Linked DNA regions of Homo sapiens. The protein of the gene in region 1 purifies or fractionates together with the protein of each later gene. This does not show direct contact. Each region holds a gene or a part of one and is shown in the gene's direction. Other genes may lie near its edges. The genes, in order: KCTD3, CRTC1, DEPDC1B, AGAP1, TRAPPC6B, KCTD15 and FGD6.

The links.
Region 2: the proteins of KCTD3 (region 1) and CRTC1 purify together in Homo sapiens (affinity purification with mass spectrometry, with the first as the bait; one large-scale study listed by BioGRID). This does not show direct contact.
Region 3: the proteins of KCTD3 (region 1) and DEPDC1B purify together in Homo sapiens (affinity purification with mass spectrometry, with the first as the bait; one large-scale study listed by BioGRID). This does not show direct contact.
Region 4: the proteins of KCTD3 (region 1) and AGAP1 purify together in Homo sapiens (affinity purification with mass spectrometry, with the first as the bait; one large-scale study listed by BioGRID). This does not show direct contact.
Region 5: the proteins of KCTD3 (region 1) and TRAPPC6B purify together in Homo sapiens (affinity purification with mass spectrometry; 2 studies listed by BioGRID and IntAct, with this or other methods). This does not show direct contact.
Region 6: the proteins of KCTD3 (region 1) and KCTD15 purify together in Homo sapiens (affinity purification with mass spectrometry; 2 studies listed by BioGRID and IntAct, with this or other methods). This does not show direct contact.
Region 7: the proteins of KCTD3 (region 1) and FGD6 purify together in Homo sapiens (affinity purification with mass spectrometry, with the first as the bait; one large-scale study listed by BioGRID). This does not show direct contact.

Annotation. Positions count from the first base shown.
Region 1 is NC_000001.11:215,570,304-215,573,803, forward strand, and holds part of KCTD3 (BTB/POZ domain-containing protein KCTD3), read left to right. Parts: intron 1-3,482; coding exon 3,483-3,500. UniProt on the Homo sapiens protein: Accessory subunit of potassium/sodium hyperpolarization-activated cyclic nucleotide-gated channel 3 (HCN3) up-regulating its cell-surface expression and current density without affecting its voltage dependence and kinetics.
Region 2 is NC_000019.10:18,780,257-18,782,833, forward strand, and holds the end of CRTC1 (CREB-regulated transcription coactivator 1), read left to right. Parts: 3' UTR 1-2,077; downstream 2,078-2,577. UniProt on the Homo sapiens protein: Transcriptional coactivator for CREB1 which activates transcription through both consensus and variant cAMP response element (CRE) sites.
Region 3 is NC_000005.10:60,602,667-60,606,166, reverse strand, and holds part of DEPDC1B (DEP domain-containing protein 1B), read left to right. Parts: intron 1-310; coding exon 311-477; intron 478-2,599; coding exon 2,600-2,776; intron 2,777-3,500.
Region 4 is NC_000002.12:236,036,043-236,039,542, forward strand, and holds part of AGAP1 (arf-GAP with GTPase, ANK repeat and PH domain-containing protein 1), read left to right. Parts: intron 1-518; coding exon 519-673; intron 674-3,500. UniProt on the Homo sapiens protein: GTPase-activating protein for ARF1 and, to a lesser extent, ARF5. Directly and specifically regulates the adapter protein 3 (AP-3)-dependent trafficking of proteins in the endosomal-lysosomal system.
Region 5 is NC_000014.9:39,147,314-39,150,323, reverse strand, and holds the end of TRAPPC6B (trafficking protein particle complex subunit 6B), read left to right. Parts: 3' UTR 1-2,510; downstream 2,511-3,010. UniProt on the Homo sapiens protein: Component of a transport protein particle (TRAPP) complex that may function in specific stages of inter-organelle traffic.
Region 6 is NC_000019.10:33,810,370-33,813,869, forward strand, and holds part of KCTD15 (BTB/POZ domain-containing protein KCTD15), read left to right. Parts: intron 1-877; coding exon 878-1,183; intron 1,184-1,421; coding exon of another isoform or gene 1,422-1,433; exon of another isoform or gene 1,434-2,420; coding exon 2,421-2,579; coding exon of another isoform or gene 2,580-3,003; 3' UTR 3,004-3,500. UniProt on the Homo sapiens protein: During embryonic development, it is involved in neural crest formation. Inhibits AP2 transcriptional activity by interaction with its activation domain.
Region 7 is NC_000012.12:95,207,468-95,210,967, reverse strand, and holds part of FGD6 (FYVE, RhoGEF and PH domain-containing protein 6), read left to right. Parts: coding exon 1-2,125; intron 2,126-3,500. UniProt on the Homo sapiens protein: May activate CDC42, a member of the Ras-like family of Rho- and Rac proteins, by exchanging bound GDP for free GTP. May play a role in regulating the actin cytoskeleton and cell shape.

The DNA of each region.
Region 1 (3,500 bases):
TTTATGGTTTAATACTTTGTGGGTGATTCAGAAAGTAGAGTAGATGAAGTTTCATTTAGAATTGTTAGTATTCGTTATTTACAAAAAGTAATGAAGTGAATTCACTATGACTGAATTTATGATTAATTCTGTTATGGGCAAGTGTGATTTTGGGCCTCATGCAAGAGGGCTGGGACTAGCCATTGAGGACTCCTGGACAAAGAGCTTTTGAGTCAGGTATATGTTTCCAATTCCCAGGCTTTATCTCTAACTAGCCTAGCAACCTTGGACAAATATTTTGATACTTAGTCTATTAAAATGTAAAGTGACAGACAGTAGTACCAATCTTATCAGATTGTTATAGGAATTTGAAGTAATAAATGTGAAATGCAAGGGTTAGTGGCATTATCAGTACTTACAGTGCAGAATAAATAACTAGTTAGATTGCTACCAAGTTAATTTAGTAGGAGGCAAGTTGCATGAAGTATAACTGTGGGTATGCAAATTTCTTTAGTCCTTTGCTGAAACCAGATTGTACATGACTCTGTTCTTGGGACACTATGGGTATGGGATAAAAAACAAATCAAAACAGAAAAGGCTTTCAAATGATTATGCTCATCATGTGTAATTTTAAGTGTGTTAGTTTTCATGAAGTTATATTCGAGACTGGTTTTGGGGCCAGAAGTTTAAAAAAAAATTGGTGGGGATGAGGGTCTAATTCCTTTGCCCAGAAATTCCAGGTTACTAACCTTTCCCCAAAATGCTGATTAAAATTGAAACTGATAATATGATTTTAAGCAGACCTTTGTGATTTTCTAAGTAGCACATAATTTTAATTATTTGGAATACAATTGGTGAATAAGTGGTGAATATAAAAGATTGCAAGTTATAAGCTGTCCTCATTTGGAATGAATTTGATGGCCTCCAAAACAGTGAATCTGCAATGTATGAATCCTTGGATCCTTCAATTTACCATTGAGTGGATTTGCTTTGATTTTGGACCAAGTCAGTTTTCTGTGACTGGGGTAATCTGTGTATTTTTTATTTTTCTTAAGAGTCTATTAAGAAACGCATTTAGGAGCATTTGCAGTGTTTTCTTAAAGTGACTCATTTGTTAATCAGATAAATGGGCGTAGGAACTGCTTATAAACACCTAGACTGTCCATAACCTGTGAAATTAGTTAGTAGTCAACTTCTATGTGTTCCCTAAAGTACCCCTTACTGTAGTTTACATTTAAATGTCTTTAATAAATGAATTGTTTTACTGTCTTTCCTTCAGTTAGCCAATGAAAGAATACTTTTCCTTACAAATTGTAAAGTTGTATGTGGGAAGAAGTGGAGATAAACTTTTTTTTTTTTTTTTTCCGAGACGGAGTCTCGCTTTGTCGCCCATGCTGGAGTGCAGTGGCGCGATCTCAGCTCACTGCCAGCTCCACCTCCTGAGTTCACGCCATTGTCCTGCCTCAGCCTCCTGAGTAAGCTGGGACTACAGGTGCCCGCCACCACGCCTGGCTAATTTTTCGTAGTTTTAGTAGAGACGGGGTTTCACCGTGTTAGCCAGGATGGTCTCCATCTGCTGACCTCGTGATCTGCCCGCCTCGGCCTCCCAAAGTGCTGGGATTACAGGCGTGAGCCACCGCGCCTAGCCGAGATAAACTTTTAATTGTGATTGGAAAGCATGTTTTGATAATGATAGAAAATTTATTTTGGAGACTAAGGCACTTTTTATGGAACAGTGCATACACGGCTTCTGCTGTTACTGACACTGAGACTGATACTGCTAAATGATTTAAGTGGGCAGTTTAGTGACATCTGTGTGTCAACACCAGTGTATTCTGAAAGTGCTCTGTTGTAACCATAAAATGCCTGCAGATCGTACAGAAGAATCAAGTCTCCGTTTTGTACAGAACATTTAACTGAGTTTTAGAGTGTGATTCTGTTTATCACACATAAGTTTCAATAAACATTTACTGGGTGTGTGCTAGGTGCTAAGAACAATGCTTTTAGGTGGTCCTCTCTGGCTTTAAGAAAAAACAACATCTACTTTTTTAATACAAAATCCATTTCTGAAACTGAGTTTGAAAAGTGAATTTACAGATAATCCATTTATCAAGATATGTAAAATATTATGAGCCATTGTTGCCTCAGGTGCCTGGATGGACTTGCAAAGTTGAGAGATCTGTGAGACTTCTGACACTACTCTGTATAAGCCTTGGTAGTCACAGTCACCCTGGCCTGCAATCCAGTGCTATTTAATAGCCCACTTAGAAGATGGGAATGGGAAGTAGGATGTATTTTGAGGTTTGTTATGCTGCAGTGAGCATAATAAAAAAAAGTAAGCAACTTCCACGTTTTTGATAATTCCAGGCTGCTAATTTAGGTAATGGCAGACAATAGATGGATGATACAGTGTATACATGCACAGCCTGGGAAACATCCCTTAGCCATTTTGGCTGGGGTTTGGCCTGTGTTTCCTGGTGATAGTGCATGGTAACTAGTGCCACTATTCAGTCACCTTGTTTAGTTTAAGTATGAAAGGTAAAAATAAATTTAGGGATTTCATATAATGCCAGAAAATAAATGTGGAGTGAAAGTAGAGGTTTGCTAGGCTGGGTGAGATAACATTGTAGTTCAAGGTGATATCTTAAAATGAAAATACTCAGAGAAGGGCTGGACTGAACAAGTACTATATTGCTTTGTTTGCCATATCAGTTTACATAAATTATTGGTTTGTTGTCCCAGTCTATTATACTGTACTTTGGTAAAGATCCTCCCTTGGTAATATACAAGCTTGATCAAATGACAACCTCAGAACAGTGATGTATTTGGCTGAATGATTTTTGAATGAATGAAGTCAGCAGTTGCAGATAGCCCAAGACTGCCTATAAAGAAGGTGTTAAATGAGTAATTTACAGTGAAATTACTATGAGCTTAAAAAGAGATAATACAGGATTGGATATTTAGAAAAACTATTACAGGGAAGGTAAAACCTGAGTGGTATCAAGAAAGATGGACGGATCTTGAATTATTGGACATGAAGAGAGTGATCTAGCTGAATAAAGATACCAAAATGGTAGTAAGCATGAATTTTTTGGGGATATGAAGAAGTTTTGTCCTATTAGAGGGGAAAACCAGCATTTGTACTGGAGAGATGAGATGGAACCTGAAGGTAATTTTGAATGTTATACTGAGAAGTTGAGACTTGGTGTGATGGGCTAATTGTTGATTCTTCAGCAGAGATTAGCTTATTGGAAAGTAGTGTTTTAAGATGCATTATATGGCGGATAACAAGTTGTTTATTGTTATTGAGAGCTGCTTGTATAATCTTAACTCTGAATTGAAAGTAGCAACGTTTAAAAATATTAACTGTAATAAATATATTGGTACAGCTATAACTATAAAACATCTTGTAAATCATTAGCCAGTGTATTAAAACAAGTTAACTAATACTGAAATTTCAAATCATGTTCTCACTTATAATACCAGATGATTTTTAATTGCAGATTTAGTACCTCAAGACA
Region 2 (2,577 bases), on another chromosome or scaffold:
AGACCCTCTGCTGGGTACATCGGTCCCCTACGGCGAAGTTCAGCCAGGGCTCTCCCTCCTGAGAGCATGGCGTCCCCACCTTCCTGTTTCGCCGACGTCACTACCCAGGGTGGCAAGTCTTGCAGGCAGAGGGTGTAGCCCAAGTTCAGCCTCTCTCTGTGTCCTCCAGAGAAGAGGGTTCTTTGCCCTCATCAGGGCCCTGCTTGTGGGTTTTCGGCTCTGGGGAGGAGAGTGTTGGCATCAGTGTGTTTGGCCTGATTTCTTCAGGGGGCCAAGCTCCCGGGAGGACCCCTAGCCAGGAGGGCCCCCCATGTCCATCCATCCCTCCTGCTGGGGCTTGGATGTCAGGCTTGGGGGCTGTGAGCTGGGACCTCGCCTGAGCCCGGTCAGGTGGGACAGGAGCCTGCCAGAAGCCCATGGGGGGCCAGGCCGGGTGGCTTCTATTTTATTTTTTTAGAGATGGGGTCTTGCTGTGTTGCCCAGGCTGGTCTCGGACTCCTGGGCTCAAGCAGTCCTCCCTCCTCGGCCTCCCAAAGTTCTGGGGCTACAGGTGTGAGCCACTTCTGCCCAGCATCCCAGGCCTGAACAGCCTTGGCAGGACCCGTCCCTAGAGGGGGCTCTGGTGCCTCCCTTAGGTGGGCCTTGAGCTGGTTTTTAACCAAACATCCTTCCAAACTCGGGCTGCGACCTGCTTCCTGAGTTTTCTGTATTTCCAAGGAGCCCTCCGACCAGGGAGAGGCTGGTGGAGTAAGGTCCAGCGGTATTCGGGGGTCCTCTGTCACCTCGCCCTGAAAACAGCAGCTCCCATCACCTTCACTGGGTCCCGATGGAGCCGTCTCAGAGGCCGAGGGGCCCTCTGTGTGGGGGTGGGACGCAGGGGCTCTCAGAGCAAGGGCCACAAAGCCGATGGCACAGATGTGCCCCTGGGCCTGGCCCGTCACCCACATGTGGTGCCCTGGGCCAGGGCGTGCGGGCGCCAGAGCCTTCCCTACACAGCCTAAGAGCAGGGGCAAGACTCGGCCCCTCACTCACCCTGGGAGGCCTGCCTGGGCTACATGGACACCTGGGTCTCTTTCTACCCCCATTCACCATGGACCAGGGGCCTCCATTTCCTGGGGGCTCTTGCGGCATGTGATTTGGGGGTCCCTGGGACATTCTCCCGTCAGCTCCACCTGAGCCAAGTGTCCTGTTCCCTGCGGCCCTTGGCCTTCCAGGGTCCTGGCCAGGCAGGGGTCAGGCACCCCATACTCTTCCGTGTGGCACAGGTGTCCACCCACCCCCACTGGCCACAGACACCATTCTCCCCCTGGGAGCAGGAGGTGGAGTAAGTTGTACCCCCAGGCCTGGGTGCTGGGGAGTTCCTGAGGGCATGGGTGGGGCAGGAGTGAGTGCCTCGTGATCCCAGCCTCAGTTTCTCTCTTGTCACTTTCTCAAACCTGCAGGTCTCAGGGCCCCGGGCTCCTCCTGGGCAGGATGGGGGGCAGGGGCTGGGCCTTGGGGTGGTGCTGGCTCTGATGATTCCAGAGCCTGTATCCACCTTCTGGGCTCCTGGCCAGCACCCCACCCCCAGGAGCCAGGGACAGGTGGCATGTGTTGGGGTCGGGGGATGGCCCCCATCTCGAAGTGTTCTGGAATTTGGGGGCAACCCTTGCCCAGCCCAGCCATCAAGAACTTCTGATCTCCTGCCCACCAGGAGGGGACTTAGCCATGGACTTGGCCAGTAGGCCTGGGGAGGGAGGGCTTTGGCAGCCAAAGTCCACTGGCCCTGCCGTGCCCCTGAGTAGGAAACTGTCCCCTAGGGGCTGGGTGGCCCCACTGATATATGCAAACCCGCCGGTCCGAGCCCTGTTCCTGCCTGTGCTCCTCTGTGCCCAGGCTGGCTCTCCCCCAACCCTAGCATGTATACTCTGCCACGGACGTCCCGTGGGCCATGATTGTGGGCGGCCGCAGCGGGCGGGGGCAGGCGGCTCAGGGCACACTCGGCCGTCCCTGCCCCATCCTCTGGCAGGGCTGCTTTTGTCTTTGTACCTTTGCATCCTTTGTAATGAAACGTAATAAAAATCCAACGTTTTCGTCACTGGCTCTTCCTCTTTTTTCTGAGCCCCTCCCTCCTCCCTCAGGGGTGACACATGGGCGTGGCAGGTGCACTGGCAGGTGCCTCAACCCTTCCGAACACACACACACACACACACACACACCCCAGACCAGGCAAGGGAAGGGGTCCCCAAAGCTGGGACAACTGGGAACCTGCCCCCCAGAATCCTGGGGCGGACACTGTATCGGGGTCTCAGCTCTTCCATGGCTGGCATCCAGGCCTGTGACCATGAGGTGGTGGGTCGTGGAGGTGGACCCAGGGGCCTCCCCAAATCCCAAATCACAGTTGGACAGTCCCTGGCAGGCCACTGGCACTCAGCAGCAGCTGCAGCACTGAGGCCTTGGTTTGGGGTTCCCTGGCCCGACCCTCCCTCAGAGGCCCGTCCCTACTGTCTCCATGCAGCAAAAACCACAGCCGCCACTCCCTGCACACACACTTTATTTTGTCCTCTCTGAGCCCTTCTCACTTCCCCCTCAGGACGG
Region 3 (3,500 bases), on another chromosome or scaffold:
TGATAGTGTTAGCCTGGCTGCTCCTGGTTCGGGAAAGAGTGCTATGAAAATTGAGATATATCTGTCTAGTGTATGGGAGGAGAAAATGGCTGTATTTGGTTCTATATATTTGTCATGCCTGGTTGATGGTTTGTATTTTCTATAGTGATTTGTGAGTGACAATGGATCTATATTCAATTGACCCAGTATAGTTGAATATGTGAAAATATTTTATGTAATTTTACTAATATATATTTTGTTAAAATACAACCATATAGAATCTACTAGGCTATAGGTGTTGAAAGATAACATTTTTTTTTTTCTAAATCAGGTTTGTTACAGAAGGAGAAAGTGGCAGTTGAAGCATTTCAGATTTGCTGCCTTCTCCTACCTCCTGAAAATAGGAGAAAGTTACAGCTATTGATGAGGATGATGGCAAGGATTTGCTTAAACAAAGAGATGCCACCCCTGTGTGATGGCTTTGGTACCCGAACACTGGTAGGTTGATTTTTAACATCAGGTATGACTTTTTGGAATGAAAGTCGACTGAGTAAGGTGTATTAGTTTGGGTGATCAGAGGGAAGTACAAAGCAGACTTGCTTAAAAGAGCCACAGTCAGTGTCCACCCAGACTTGTGTCGTGCTTTTGTTCTAAGTGTCTTAAAGAACATAATGAGAAATGGAGACTTGAGTAGGGGCAGACTCTGTAGAGAGATCTGCTACATCCTGTTCTCCCACTTAAAATTATTTTAAATTTATTCTTAATTGACAACTAATAATTGCATATGTGATGTTTTAATTCATGTATACATTATAGAGTCAATCAAGCTAATTAACAGATTCATTACCATACCAACTTATCATTTTTTTGTAATGAGATCATTAAAAATCTATTCTTTTCTCAATTTTGAAATATACAATATATTATTATAATTGTCGTCACCGTGCTGTGCACTAGAGCATTAAGACTTGATCCTCCTGTCTCACTGGATCTTTGTACCCTTTGACCAACATCTATTTCCATGTCCCTGTATCCCCCAGCCTGTGGTACCTACCATCTAATCTCTGCTTCTATTGGCATATGTTTTTAAAGAGAGTTTATTTTAGAATTTACTTACTAGCAAAATCTCTTGATTTTCCTCAAAAAATGTCTTTGAGCAAAACTGGTGCTTCAGTGGAATGTATGTGCTTTCCATATCCTGTTAAAACACCGTGTACTCCCTGGGGATTCACTGGCCCAGTTTTAGAAGTAATAGAGTGAGATCAGAGGAGCACTTAGTGCCCAGTAGGATTCTTGATCTCTATATTTTTTTGGAGTGAGTGGATGGTTAGAGAGGCTAATAGACCTTTTTGAAAAGCTGAAGAAAACTTTATATCTATTCTGCATATAAAATACACATGCAAAACTTTGCATGCAGTTTCAAGGCGATCACAGAGTCCCTGGGGTCCATGGTCTCCAGGCAAAAAATTCTCTGCCTGTGTGTCTCTCTGTACATGTAAATGTAAGTGAAGATCATTTGCAGTGTGTTAATGAAGTGTTACTAAGCAGAATTACATGATTTTTTGCTTAAAGATTTTGAAGGAAGATTGTCAGCGATAAAAGTAGTAGGAAAAAACAAAACAAAACAAAAGCCAGTCCAAAGAACAGTATTAAGAATGGAGTAGTTAGGCTGGGCGTGGTGGCTCACTCCTGTAATCCCAGCACTTTGGGAGGCCGAGGCAGGTGGATCACCTGAGGTCAGGAGTTCTAGACCAGCCTGACCAACATGGTGAAACCCCGTCTCTATTAAAATTACAAAAATTAGCTGGGCATGGTGGCAGGCGCCTGTAATCCCAGCTACTCGGGAGGCTGGGGCAGGAGAATTGCTTGAACCTGGGAGGCGGAGGTTACAGTGAGCCAAGATCACACCATTGCACTCCAGCATAGGTTACAGAGCGAGACTCCGTAAAAAAAAAAAAAAAAAAAAAAAGAATAGTTAATTTCAATTCTATGGAAATTATTACATTGATGCTATAATATATTTTGCATTTCTGCTTGCCTCAAAGAGAGTCTCATCACTTAATGTACTTCTTGAAAAGTCCCATGGCTTTGTTCAAAGATGATTGTCAAATATACATCGAAAATCCTAGAGAAAATAAGCTAACTAGGAAAAGATGTAATGGTTGAGGCATGTGGACTGTGTTAGCGGTTTAAAACAAATCAATAATGAAATTAGGATAAATAATAATTGACTAAATGGCTATAAAGTGCTTTGAACTTAGTAGTGCTACATGATTCAAGTCATGGTGATAATGATTTTCAAAATTTGTTTTCATATATTTATATGTGTGTATGTGTGTGTATATATATATATATATATATGTATATTTAAAATCGTGTAAAAGGAGGTTTAAAAATTGCTCAGATAAGCATCTCTCTGCAGTCTCTTAACAGGAAGATGCACATTTTGTTTGTTCTGGTTGTTGAGACCGTCAACCCATCTGAGATGGCTGGGTACTCTTGGTAGAATATGCACCCTGTGCCTTAGACCATTTCTCATATTTGCCTTTTGCAAATTAGATTGCACTCAGTTCAGAAAAATACTCATCTGCGTTTACCCCCCACCCCGCTCTTTTTTTAGATGGTTCAGACATTTTCCCGTTGCATCTTGTGTTCCAAGGATGAAGTGGACTTGGATGAGTTATTAGCTGCTAGATTGGTAACGTTTCTGATGGACAATTACCAGGAAATTCTGAAAGTCCCTTTGGCCTTGCAGACCTCTATAGAGGAGCGTGTGGCTCATCTACGAAGAGTCCAGGTAAAGGAGAGGATATTATCAGTTCTATGAAATTGGCAATATAAAGTCACGTAAGCTTGCTAGGCTTCTTGGGGCATTTTATTATGAGGATTAAGTGAATTAATGTTTATAAAGTACTTACAACAGGTCTTGGCACATAGTAATCCCCTGCATGTGTTTGTATTATCATTGAAAAGTTTACAGAATGCACATTTGGTTTTGTGTATCAATCCATGTGGCATATTTTTTATTGCTAATTCCTTGAATGAGTTTGTTTAGAATCTACATACACCTACTGATGGAAATGATTTTATGTGCAGTAAGTGTCTTGATTCATAATTGCCCTGTGACCTAGTTTAATATTCCCACTTTTTGCATGAAAAAGCTAAGGCACAAAGAACTTAAATAACTTCGCTTAAGGCCACAGAGCCAGAATTCTGACTGTTGCAGTCAGCCTCTGTAATCAGTGCTCTAAACTATCATTCCATATTGCCTGTCTAAAAATCATAGTACAGTAGAAGAACACTGGCATGAGAGCCATGAATCCCTGGCCAAATTCCTAGCTGTATCCTTTCTGTCGTGTGACTCTGGGCAAGTCCCTTAACCGCTTTGGATTTTACTTTCTTTCCTCAGGCGTTAAAATGGGCTATTCTTTCTTTATAAAGTTGTGAAGATTAGAACACTGTACTTTACAATTCCTAGGATGAATTTCTGACATATGTCAGGTATTCTTTGAAAGGTAGCT
Region 4 (3,500 bases), on another chromosome or scaffold:
TCCCTGTCTGAAAACGTGGGAATTGATGCCTCTCCCACGGTAACAGGTCCTCTGCCATAAAAGAACAGAACCTTCCCGCGTTCCTCTATCCATGGAGTGTCTGTGGATCTACGCGAGTGCTTAGATAGAAATTAACCCTGCAGCCGGAGATTAGCGGCCCTAACTTAATTTTCGTCCCACAGATAAGGATGGTCAGCCATGAGTTACATGGTTATTCTCCTAAGTTGCTTTGTGTGTGCACCACACAGAGACGCTGACATCACTCGTTGATTTCATCTGGCCTTGTGCCCTGAGCCTTGATTGAAACCTGGCTAAGTCATGCTGGCCTTAGGAACCACATCTGGACTGTTGGGAGGTGCATGGATTCAAATCTCCGCCGCCGTGGTTGTCCAGTGCCGTGCGCCTCACCGGTCCATGCAGGGGCAGCTGAACCCAGAGGCGCTTCTGTGACAGAGGGCCCGCAGGGGGACTGCTGTCTCATAAAAGCTAAACTCTTCATCCCACACTCTGTGTTTCAGAACAAGAAGAAAATTTTGAGTTTATCATTGTGTCCCTCACTGGCCAAACATGGCACTTTGAAGCCACGACGTATGAGGAGCGGGACGCCTGGGTCCAAGCCATCGAGAGCCAGATCCTGGCCAGCCTGCAGTCGTGCGAGAGCAGCAAGAACAAGGTGAGGCCCCTGGCTGCCCAAAACCAAGGCTGGGGCTGCTCAGGGGGAGTGCGGGCCCCAAGTAATGCCCCAGGGAGGAGAAAATAGAGGACCAGTGTGAATGACAGGACCTAGCTATTCTTTATGAGCAGAAAGCTCAATAACTAAAACGATCAGAAGCACTTTGTGTCTATACCATCATACATGAGTATTCCAGCCTGACCGTGCTTCCCTGGCAGGAGAGCCAAGGTTAAATCTTCAGTCTGTCAGCCAATCCCAGAGGGAATCTTTTGGACTCTTGTGGCTTCTGGGTCCACATTTATTTTTGTTTTGGACAGAATACACTCAGAAAAAAAGAGAGACGGACTTAAAAGATGCACTGTTCAAGTAAATGCCCAGAATTCAAATCGACATCAAGTTGGAAAACCGTCTCTTGTTAGGGACATAAATGAAAAGTAGATGGGTCTGTATGAGCGTGCAGGGAGTTTGGGAAGATAAAGTTTCTATTATCTAAACTGATAAAGCCTGGTATGTGTTTTATTCAATAATTAGAGGTGGTGGTGCAGCTCTTTTAGAATTTGTCCAGCAGGTTTTCTGGTTCTCACCAGAAAACGCCACCCCCAAATGTTTCTATATTAAAAAAATAATGAGAGGCAATTTGTTTTTTGTAGTTACTTAGCTAGAAAAGGAAAAATATTTTAACCTGTATTTTTTTTTCCTTTGGAGAGAGTCTATCTCTGTCACCTAGGCTGGAGTACAGTGGCACAATCTTAGCTCACTGCAACCTCCAAGCTCAAGCAATCCTCCCACCTCAGCCTCCTGAGTTGCTGGGACTACAGGCCTGGCTTGCTTGCTTATTTATTTGTATATTTATTTATGTAATATATATTATTTGTGGAGGTGGGGTTTCATCACGTTGCCCAGGCTGGTCTCAAACTCTTGGGCTCAAGCGATCCACCTGCCTCAGACACCCAGAGTCCTGGGATTACAGGCATGAGCTACCACGCCTGGCTTAACCTGTGTTCTCTAGGCTACTGCCCAGTGATGTTCCTTCTACAAAAGTCCTTTTTCCCATCAAGGATTGCTTCAGTTTCATTATTTTAATGTTTGTTTGTCTTTAACCTCTTTGCTGGGACGTCTTAGACTTTTGGAGAGCATTTTGATATTTCAGACTATGATCAACTAGAAACTAAGAGAAAGGATGTTACCCACCGACCTGCAGTTTCATTTGTAACCATTTAAAGAAATTTCTGCCTATGATTTATGTGCAGCTTTGTCACTAAAAAGAGAGTCTGTCTTTCAGAAAGATGAAGTGTCTTATTTTATTACCCTCTTTAACCAGGGTAAACCAGACCACAGTCATTATTATTATAATGTAATTTGCTTCCCTTTTTAAAAGATGTTTTATACTCAAGGTGGGGAGAACCACTGCCTTTCATTCCATACACCCTGGCTTTACTGGGTCACGTCCACATGCATCCATGATGTGCCTCCTGAAACGAGCACAGGGTGCTTTGGGGCCACCTCAATGGGAAGCAACAGCACACAGCATCCTCCAAGCGTGGGCAGCTCATTCTGAGAAGGAAGGCAGGGAGGCAGGCTGTGTTACCGAACAGAGAGGCACAGGTTCCTGCCTTCATGGAGAAATCACAGTCTTTCACGGCAGACTCTGAGCCCCTGCCACCTCGACCTAATTCAGGAAGATCTGGGATGGTGGCAGCCTTTCCCATTCCACACCTTGCCAGGCTCCTCCTGACTCGTGTCTCAGCTCATGCACACACCAGCCTTAGAATGCTGCCCTCGGCCCTCACTAGGCGCCTGTTCTCCAGGGAATTGCTCCCTTGGGAGGAGGACGCGTTGAGCAACCAAAGGTGGCCGACTCAGAGCTGGTCATCGTGGGCATTGGTTGAACAGGTGTGAGGGCATAAAACATGGAAATACTGTCCACAAGGAGTAGCGGGAGGCAAAAATACAGGCCCAGTTGACCACCAGCTTTATAGTATTTTACCTGCCAGTGGATAATTGAGAGCTGATACAGGTATAGGCATAGCTAGACAGACAGACAAACCAACCAACCACAGAAATGATACAGGTACACAGAGAGACAGAGGCACATCCCTTTGTATGTGTGTGTGTGTGTGTGTGTGTGTGTGTGATCACACACTTGCATTCCAGATGCCAGTGTAAACTGTTTAAACATATTTTGAATACTTGGGTATCTAACCAAAGGGAATTAAAATTCAATAACGCATGATGCTAATTAGACAGTAGTGATTAATACATTATAATTTATTATGTAGCAAGTAATATATTATTTCACATCAATTTGATGAGATGTTTCAATTTATGAAGAATTCTTACGCAAAAATCAAGCTTATTGTAACTGTCCTCTGAAATTGATCAATTTTTGCTTTAACCATAATATTAAATGCATACTTAATAAATAAGCCTCAAAAACACTACATATCAGCCAGACACGATGGTTCACGCCTGTACTCCTAGTGCTTTGGGAGGCTAAGGTGGGAGGATCACTTGAGGCAAGGAGTTCGAGACCAGCCTGGCCAACATAGGGAGACCATTGTCTCTACAAAAAAATTTTTAAATAGCCAGGTGCATGGTTCACACCTGTAGTTCCAGCTACTCAGGAGGCTGAGGTGGGAGGACCACTTGAGCCCAGGAGATGGAGGCTGCAGTGAGCTATGATTGCACTACTCCAGCCTGGGCAACAGAGCAAGACCCTCTCTCTAGGTGGGGAAAAAGGTACATATCCAGTACATATCCTTTCACTTAGAACTTCTACTTCCAGGAATCTATTCTTAGTAAATAATCATGAGTGTGTACCAAGACT
Region 5 (3,010 bases), on another chromosome or scaffold:
AGTGTAAAGAGATAAATTATTCATGTAAAAGTATTTCAAGTAGTGATGATTTAATTACATTGTTCGATGTTTGTACAGGAGTAAGCATGTATTTTTATCAATTTAACACAGATCAAAGGAGATGAAGGGACATTCTGCCATGACATACACTTAACCAAAACTATTCAAAATGAAAACCGGATTTCAAATAACCAGACACCAAGATGCAGGGCCCTTATTTTAAACCTTTTTATTTGGTTAGAGTGATATGTATTTAGCCATAGATGGAGAAACAAAGCTCAGGGTTTGTTGAATTAGCATGAGAGAAAATTATGTACCAACAGAATTATTTGTGAGAAGAATGAACAAATTTTGATAAAGTATGAATTTGTTTTATTTTAAAAAGCAAACATACTAAATTTTTTTTATTTTATTGCTTATAATTTATTAAGAATGTTTACACCTGTATAAGGATTTCATATATACATTGTATGTGTGTATATATAAATACATATATGACTGCCTAAATTGTTTATAAATTTAATTTTTCTTTAATAGGTTTCATTCCTTCAGAGCTCCATTAATGTAATCAAAATGAAATATAGATTAGTTTAAATGTGAATTCAGTGACTCTAGGGCCAAAGAATATTAGGTATGTTTGGAAAGAATTTTTGTATTTATTCCTGTTACAGTTTTGACTTTCAACTTCTCTCCCCGTGCATGGAAGTCCTGGTAAAGGATCTAACATCTTTATTCCCTTCTTTCCTCTTCCAGCTGAGCAGAGTTGGATAATTGAATTAGTCATTCTGACATTCTTTGGACCATATCATCTTAGTGGTTTGGGGTCAGTGCTCATCTGATATATCTTTCTTACCACCTCTTCTACTTACTTTCTCTTACTTAAATTATCTGGCATAAGCAGTTATCTCCAGCTTTTGTTAGAATCTTGCATGTTGATTACTAAAACTATACTTTGTTTCCCATTTATTTATTACCCTTTTGCATGTATTTGTGTGACAGGGAACTCTGCAGCAGGGGGTGACTGACACACCAAACAAGATGTTTCACTGGGTACTCTGCCATAGAAATGGCAGATTAAGAAGATTGACTATACCAAACATTATATTAAAAACACAAAATAAAAACTATAAAAATGTACTTTAGGACATTAAAGAAAACTCAAGTTAGAAGCATACCATTTTCCTTTCATGGAAGGGTACAGTATTACAAAGATAATTTGTTTAACTTGATTTATTAAATTCTAGTTATGTGCCCTATAATGATGTTTCAGTCAGTGACAGACCTCATATATGGCAGTGGTTCCATAAGATTACAATACTGTATTTTTACTGTACCTTCTTTATGTTTAGATATGCAAGTACTTACCATTGTGTTACAGTGTCCTACAGTATTCACTACAATAATATGCTGTACAGGTTTGTAGCCTAGGAGCAATAGGCCATAGCTTAGGTGTATAGTAGATCATACCATCTAGGTTTGTGTAAGTACACTCTGTGATTGTACAATTTTAAAATCTCCTAATGATGATGCATTTCTCAGAATGTATCCCCTTTGCTAAGCAATGCATGACTGCAATCCTAATTCTCACATGTTTTGGGGAAAAAATTTTAATTTTGAAAAAATTTAGGAAAGTTCCTACCAAATATACATGTATAAAGTTTATTAAAAGTCATAATGACCCAGGAATAGCTAATGACACAGAAGTAGATCAAAATAGAACACAATAGAGAACTTCAAAATAAAACAGGTGTGAGAATTGTGTGTGTGAAAAAGCTGGGTTCAAATAAGTTGGTTTGTTAGACATTCATATGCCTACCCATCAGCCATTTCGTTCTCCCTTCCTTGCTGACAAAGCCCCATTTTTTTTTTCTTTTTTTTTGGCCTAAAACTCTGTATGGCTGCCTTGTGCTATAGAATAGGGTGCTTCCCTAGCCTAGAGAGGGTGAGTGTTGATTAGATTCTGTGCCAATCATGGTAATTGGCTTACTTGATCATTTGATGGAATCTAGGCTAACGAGACAAAGGAAGTCTGAAGGCTTTGAATAAGAAATTTTCTGTTGCTCTTAACAATTGATACAAGTTAGGGATTTGCCAGCATCCCTCTTCTGCTTCTCAGTGAAGATATGTGATATGGATGTTTGAAGCTAATCTGCAACAGCCTTCTGATGGCCATGAAAGGACAAGTATGGAGATGAAAGCTATCACACTGAGAATAGTGGGATGTAGATAGAAAGCACCTGAATTGTGCTTCTGAATTAACCAATCCAGGAACTGCTTTACCTTTGGACTTTTTGTTATGTGAGATATTCTTTATATTGTTCCATTTGCTTTGGGTATATGTATATTGTTACTTGTAGCCAAAAAGAAACCTCTCTTAGTAGAAACAAAGGGAGAGTTAGGTTATTCAAAAATTAGTATGGGACAATTGAATATGCCTTTTTCTGCGGGAGTAGGTGGGGAGAAACTTAAAGGTTCACTTGTAAAACAATAAAGTACTAAAGAAAATGTGATAATACTTTCGTGATTTTGTGGTGGAGAAGGCCTTTCCAACACACAAATGTAGGAAATCATAAAGGAAAACTATAAAACAAAGAAATGTAGTAAAATCTCTTCAACAAATAGTGTTGGGAAAACTGGACATCCACATACAAAAGAATGAAATTGGATTGTTGCCTTAATGCCATACATAGAAATCAACTTAAGGCCGGGTGTGGTGGCTCAAGCCTGTAATCCCAGCACTTTGGGAGGCCGAGGTGGGGCAGATCATGAGGTCAGGAGTTCAAGACCAGCCTGGCCAAACAGTGAAACCCTGTCTCTACTGAAAAAAATACAAAAATTAGCTGGGTGTGGTGGTGGGCGCCTGTAGTCCCAGCTACTTGGGAGGCTGAGGCAGGAGAATTGCTTGAACCCGGGAGTCGGAGGTTGCAGTGAGCCAAGATGGAGCCACTGCGCTCCAGCCTGGGCGACACAGTGAGACTCTGTCTCCAAAAAAAAAAAGAAATCAACTTAA
Region 6 (3,500 bases), on another chromosome or scaffold:
CTGAGCTGGTTGTTTATGTCCATTTTATACATAAGGGAACTGAGGCCGGGCGCAGTGGCTCACGCCTTGGGAGGCCGAGGCAGGTGGATCACATGAGGGCAGGAGTTCAAGACCAGCCTGGCCAACATGGGAAAACCCCATCTCTACTAAAAACATAAAAGTTAGCCGGGTGTGGTGGCAGGCACCTGTAGTCCCAGCTACTCGGGAGGCTGAGGCACGAGAATTGTGGAGTTTGCTGTGAGCCAAAATCGAGCCACTGCACTCCAGCCTGGGTGACAGAGAGAGTCTGTCTCAAAAAACAAAAACAAAAAAAAAAAACAAAAAAAAACGAAAAAAAAACCAAGAGGCTCAGTTAGTGAGGTATAGAGGTTTAGAGGTCTCAGGGCAGGTTGATGATGAAGCTGAAAATCTGACCCAGGCAGGCTTGGCTGGAGAAGAACTTTTTTTGCTTCCGGGTAGGCTGTGAGCTCCTAGGCCCGGCTGCCCTGTGCCCAGCATGATCTCTTCTCTCGGTGGGATTCTAAGGCAGCAGCAGGTCCCCAGGCATAGGCACAGCCTCGTCCTTTAGTGGAGCTTCCAGGTCTTTCCATGGGGAGGCTTCACTGCCCAGTGCCTGGGGCCAGATGGAAGGGCTCAGGGGGGCTGGCACAGGTGCACATCAGCGGCTGCCCTTGGGACAAGGCTAGGTTCTTTATACTTGCAAACCACTCAGTTGCCCCATCTGTACAATGGGTGCAACCGGCCCAGTCCACACAATACCCTGCGAGTCGCAGTTCCTGCAGAATTGGTTGGAACCGGCAGGCCGCCTCCCCTCTCCCCCTTCCCCCACCACCCCTACTCCGACACCCACATCAACACCCTGTGCGCCTGTCCCCAGGACTTCAGTCTGCTGTACGAGGAGGCGCGCTACTATCAGCTCCAGCCCATGGTGCGCGAGCTGGAGCGCTGGCAGCAGGAGCAGGAGCAGCGGCGCCGCAGCCGGGCCTGTGACTGCCTGGTGGTGCGCGTCACGCCCGACTTGGGCGAGCGGATCGCACTCAGCGGCGAGAAGGCCCTCATCGAGGAGGTCTTCCCCGAGACCGGAGACGTCATGTGCAACTCCGTCAACGCCGGCTGGAACCAGGACCCCACGCACGTCATCCGCTTCCCGCTCAATGGCTACTGCCGGCTCAACTCGGTACAGGTGAGGGCTGCACGCTGCCCCCTCCCCGCCGCACCCCCGGCGTCCGCGGAGCCCTCCAGGGGCAGAGTGAGCTGGAGGGAGGCGCGATCCCTGAAACGGTGAAGCCCCCCGTGCCATCCTACAAAAAAGGCAACAATGTGTCGATGCATAATTTATGTCCCTCTCATAATTAAATGATGGCGCCTGGGGGATGGACTTAAAAAAATCGATCTGTACTTTTTTTTTTTTTTTCCAAAAGGATGTTCTATAAAAATGGCCCAGAGTATTTTCAACAAAGCGTGCTTCATTTGACACCCAGAGTCTGACTTTGGATTCGAACTAAACCCAGGCAACAGGCGAGGCAGGACAGAGGCTGAGTGGAAAGGTGGTCTGGAGCCCCTTCCCTCTCCCTGCTGACCTGGGAGTCGCAGGCACCCACCAGCTGCCAAGAGAATCCCTGGACCGGCTCTTCCTGGATGGGTCCAAGAATTGGACAGCTCAGATGGAGTGAGGGCCTATTTTCCAACAGCTCTTCGCAGACCCAAGAGCTTGGCACATTTCCGGGTTAGGGTGGAATGGGCTTTGCAGGGAAGAGGGCCCCCTGTGCACGCATTCCACAGCCTGTCGGTCAGAACTTGCTAGTTGCAGGAGACGGGTGTTACACGCAGTCATCAGACCTCACCCTCACAGAGGCACAAACCCACATAGTTGTGGACGCCTGCAGAGACTCAAATATTGAGAGGACTTCTCCTTTTTCTCTCCCTCCAGAGCTCCCACGAGCTGATGCACCCCCAGGCTTCAAACCACCTGGAATGCACAGCTCAGGGAAGCTGGTGGATGCCTAGAGGCTGAAGGACAGGGAACTCTCCATTATTGGGGCAGGACTCAGGGAGGACACTTGGGGCCATGTGTCTGGAGAGAGGGCATAGGTTACACCCTACAGAATAAAGAAGGGACCCAAAGCCTCTTTTTGCCTCCCGGAATCAAGGCCCTGAGGGCAGCAGGATGGTGGCCTGGGTGGGGTCGTCCAACTAGGTTTGCTAACCTGAGGGGTCACTGGGCCTGGCCACTTCTGTCCCTCTGGTGGTGGAACCCAGCACGTGGTTCTGTAGGGACCTTTGTCAGTGAGCAAGACTGAGATCGTCACAGGAGAAGGTGCCCTTGCTGGCTGCCCCAGCAGGCACCCACCTCCCTGCCAGGCCAAGCCAGGTGTCCTCTTGCAGCTTGGCCTTGATGACCTCTGTTTCTTCCTGGGCAGGTCCTGGAGCGGCTGTTCCAGAGGGGTTTCAGCGTGGCTGCGTCCTGTGGGGGCGGTGTGGACTCCTCCCAGTTCAGCGAGTATGTGCTTTGCCGGGAGGAGCGGCGGCCGCAGCCCACCCCCACTGCTGTTCGAATCAAGCAGGAACCCCTGGACTAGGCCCTGCTTCAGTGCCCACCTGGGCCCCCCCAGGGACCTGGAAACAGTGCTGGGGAGTTCTGCCTGTGTATACTTGGCCGTGGGCATGAGACCGAGGGTGAGGCTGGAGGGTCCAAAGCTGGCCCAGCGAGCACCAGGGTCCCAGGTGTCATGGCAACAGAACGTGGGATGCTGGAGGCATGCCTGCAGAAGGACTGTTGATGCGACCCAAAGATACAGCGGTGGGATCTCTGCTGCCAGCTCTCCCAGCCCCTCAGCTTCGCAGCCTGGCGCAGCATCCTCTGAGGCCCCGGGGCCTGTTGGGGCGGGGTTGGAAGAGCCGTCTGCAGCTACTTCAGAGGAGCTGTTTATCCCTCTCCACGCGGGGCAGACTCTGGCGGGTCTCCTAGCGTCCGAGAGATGGCTTATTTTCTACAGTATTTAAAATGGATGCAGCCCTAACTGCAAAAGTCAGAGAGGCTGACAAGGACCAATGCTTCTTTATCTGGTGCTCAGTTCTCAGTCAGACGTGCAGCATGGCTGCAGGGTGGACCAGCTGCCTGGCATTCAGGCCCAGATGCCTGCAGGGCTGGGGCTCTCGGGACAGATGCAGGGATGTGTGCTGCAGGGCTGCTGGGAGGAGAGTGGTGGGGGCCTGAGGGCTGAGTGATTCTGTAACCACCTGAGACCTTCACGTTTGCTGCCGTTGGGGGCTCAGGCTGCACTCCCCGGGTCACCTGACCTGCTGCCCAGGGGCTTCCAGTCCTGTCTGTGTGGACTGGCACCTGGGCTGCTGGAGAAGTCTCCTCCCGTTCGGACCAGCCTCAGGGCTGCACGTTACCTCAGGAATGGGCCCCACCATGAAGGGGCCCATCTGTCAGCAGCGTCTTCTAGGTCCCCAGCTCAGGGAGCCATCCCCAGCTCCAGTTTTCTCATGCGAAT
Region 7 (3,500 bases), on another chromosome or scaffold:
TTTCACCAATGTGTTCCTGCAGTTCTGAGTGTATCCATAAGCTGGGCCATAGAGAGAATTTGTGTGTAAAGCAGCTTGTTTTAGAGCCCCTGGAAATGAATGAAAATTTAGAAAACAGTAAAATTGATGAGACTTTGACTATAAAAACTAGGAGTAAATGTGATTTGTATGGTGAAAAAGCCAAGAACCAGGGTGGGGTTGTTTTAAAGGCAAGCGTTTTAGAAGAGGAGCTCAAAGATGCCTTAATACACCAAATGCCACCTTTTATTTCTGCACAGAAGCACAGGCCCACAGACAGCCCAGAAATGAATGGTGGCTGTAATTCAAATGGACAATTCAGAATTGAATTTGCGGATTTGTCACCTTCCCCATCCAGCTTTGAAAAAGTTCCTGATCATCACAGTTGCCACTTACAGCTTCCTAGTGATGAATGTGAACATTTTGAAACTTGCCAGGATGACAGTGAAAAAAGCAATAATTGCTTTCAGTCATCTGAACTAGAGGCTCTGGAAAATGGGAAAAGGAGTACTTTAATATCTTCAGATGGAGTTAGTAAGAAATCAGAAGTCAAAGACCTTGGTCCCTTAGAAATTCATTTAGTACCATATACCCCAAAATTTCCAACTCCCAAGCCCAGAAAGACACGAACTGCTCGTCTGTTACGCCAAAAGTGTGTAGATACTCCTAGTGAAAGCACTGAAGAACCGGGGAATTCAGACAGTAGCTCTTCCTGTCTTACTGAAAATAGTTTGAAAATCAATAAAATCAGTGTTCTGCATCAGAATGTTTTGTGTAAGCAGGAACAGGTGGATAAAATGAAGCTAGGAAATAAAAGTGAATTGAATATGGAATCCAACAGTGATGCACAGGACTTAGTCAATTCACAGAAAGCCATGTGTAATGAAACAACTTCCTTTGAAAAAATGGCACCTTCTTTTGATAAAGACTCTAATTTGAGTTCTGACAGCACAACTGTAGATGGTTCTAGTATGTCGCTTGCTGTGGACGAAGGGACCGGTTTTATAAGATGTACTGTATCTATGAGCCTGCCTAAGCAGCTCAAATTAACTTGCAATGAACATTTGCAATCTGGGAGAAACCTGGGAGTTTCTGCCCCTCAAATGCAAAAGGAATCTGTTATAAAAGAGGAAAATTCTCTACGAATTGTCCCCAAAAAACCTCAAAGACATAGCTTGCCTGCTACAGGAGTGCTTAAAAAGGCTGCCTCCGAGGAGCTTTTGGAAAAAAGTTCTTATCCTTCAAGTGAAGAAAAAAGTTCAGAGAAGAGTCTAGAAAGAAATCACCTTCAGCATTTGTGTGCCCAAAACCGTGGTGTGTCATCCTCCTTTGATATGCCTAAACGGGCTTCAGAAAAGCCAGTGTGGAAGTTACCTCATCCTATTTTACCCTTTTCAGGGAACCCAGAATTCTTAAAGTCTGTCACCGTATCGTCAAACAGTGAGCCTTCAACAGCCCTAACCAAGCCCAGAGCAAAATCGTTATCTGCTATGGATGTGGAAAAGTGCACTAAGCCTTGCAAAGACTCTACAAAGAAAAACTCTTTTAAAAAGTTGCTCAGCATGAAACTGTCCATCTGTTTCATGAAGAGTGACTTTCAAAAATTTTGGTCCAAGAGTAGCCAACTCGGAGACACCACCACAGGCCACCTCTCCAGTGGGGAGCAGAAGGGGATTGAAAGTGATTGGCAAGGCTTGTTGGTAGGAGAGGAGAAGAGAAGTAAACCCATCAAGGCATATTCCACAGAAAACTATAGCCTGGAATCTCAAAAGAAGAGGAAGAAGTCTCGGGGCCAGACCAGTGCAGCTAATGGTCTGAGAGCTGAGTCTTTGGATGACCAAATGCTCTCCCGGGAGTCATCATCTCAGGCACCTTACAAGTCTGTTACAAGCCTCTGTGCACCGGAGTATGAAAATATACGCCATTATGAGGAAATACCAGAGTACGAGAACTTGCCATTTATTATGGCTATACGGAAAACTCAAGAGTTGGAATGGCAGAATTCCAGCAGCATGGAGGACGCTGATGCAAATGTGTATGAGGTAGAAGAGCCGTATGAAGCTCCAGATGGCCAGCTGCAGCTTGGACCCAGACATCAGCATTCCAGGTAACAGGTGCCAGACAGACACTTTTGCATGCATCATTGCAATTAACCTTCAACAGCCTGGTGAGTTAGGAATGCAGGGGGAAAAAAAACACGTGGTTGAAGGAATAGTTTAGAAAATGTGTAATTATTCTCAAGTGCAGCCTCCTTTTAGCATACAGTTGGAATGGGTATTTGCAATACAAGCTTGAAGTAGTTAATTTATTTTAGTAACCGATTCAAAGAATTTGAACCAGTGGCAATGTAGGTGCTGCTGCAAGGAAGGCGTGGAACAGAGAGGTCCTGGGCCTCCAGACACCAGCTCAGAAGTCATATCAGGAAACCTGGGGCAGGAAATTGGCCAATTCAATGACATTTATTTGCTAGGTATAAGAAGTCTGAAGTTACTGAAATATGTAGGCATTTACGTGTGGTGCGCTTATCAGGTGGAACCTCCACATTTTTAGAAGTTCACCACTCTTTGAAGATTGGTCATTTTACCTGTTGATGGCTAATTGCTGACCTCAAGTGGATATAGGAAAAATGCAGGAAACACGTAACTACTCTTTATTTCTCACTTTTAAAATAATTTAATTAAAAAAAAATTTTTTTTTTGAGATGAGGTCTTACTCTGTCACCCAGGCTGGAGTGCAGTGGTATGATCATGGCTTACTGCAGCCTCGACTCCCCAGGCTCAAGGAGTCCTCCCATCTCAGCCTCCTTGAGTAGCTGGGACTATAGGTGCATGCCACCATGCCTAGATAATTTTTGTATTTTTTGTAGAGACAGGGTTTTGCCATCATGCCCAGGCTGGTCTTGAACTCCTGGGCTCAAGCACTGCTCCTGCCTTTGCCTCCCAAAGGGTTGGGATTACAGGCATGAGTCACTACACTGGGCCTATTTCTCACTTTTGTGTGTGCACTTCCTACCTGTGGAATACCTACTCCATCTCTCTTATTAAAATCGTGCCCATCCTCAATAATCCACCCCCTCAGTCTTTGGCTTCATTAAGCTTCTACAATTACCTAGTCAGAAGTGTTTACTTCCTATTCTGACCACCCAGTTATGCTGTGATATCCTTTCATCTCAGGCTGTCTTAATGTATAACTATTTATTGGCATGTCTGATGTTCTGTATTTGGTTTTAAGCTCCATGAAGAGTTCTAGTCATCTCTTTGCCCTGGATAAAGCCAAGCAAGAGGCCTAGTAGAATCAGTAGATGTTGATTGGGTCTAAGAGAGAATGAATGAAAATAGGCCAAGAGAGCAACCACTGCAGCGGCTTCCTTCTCTCCATAGTCGCATAGGTAGCTTTTCCATTGTATTTCTAATGTTTGTTTGTGTTTAACAAAAAAGCACATGGACCCTTTTGGAAATCTTTAGATTGTTCTTAGTCCACTA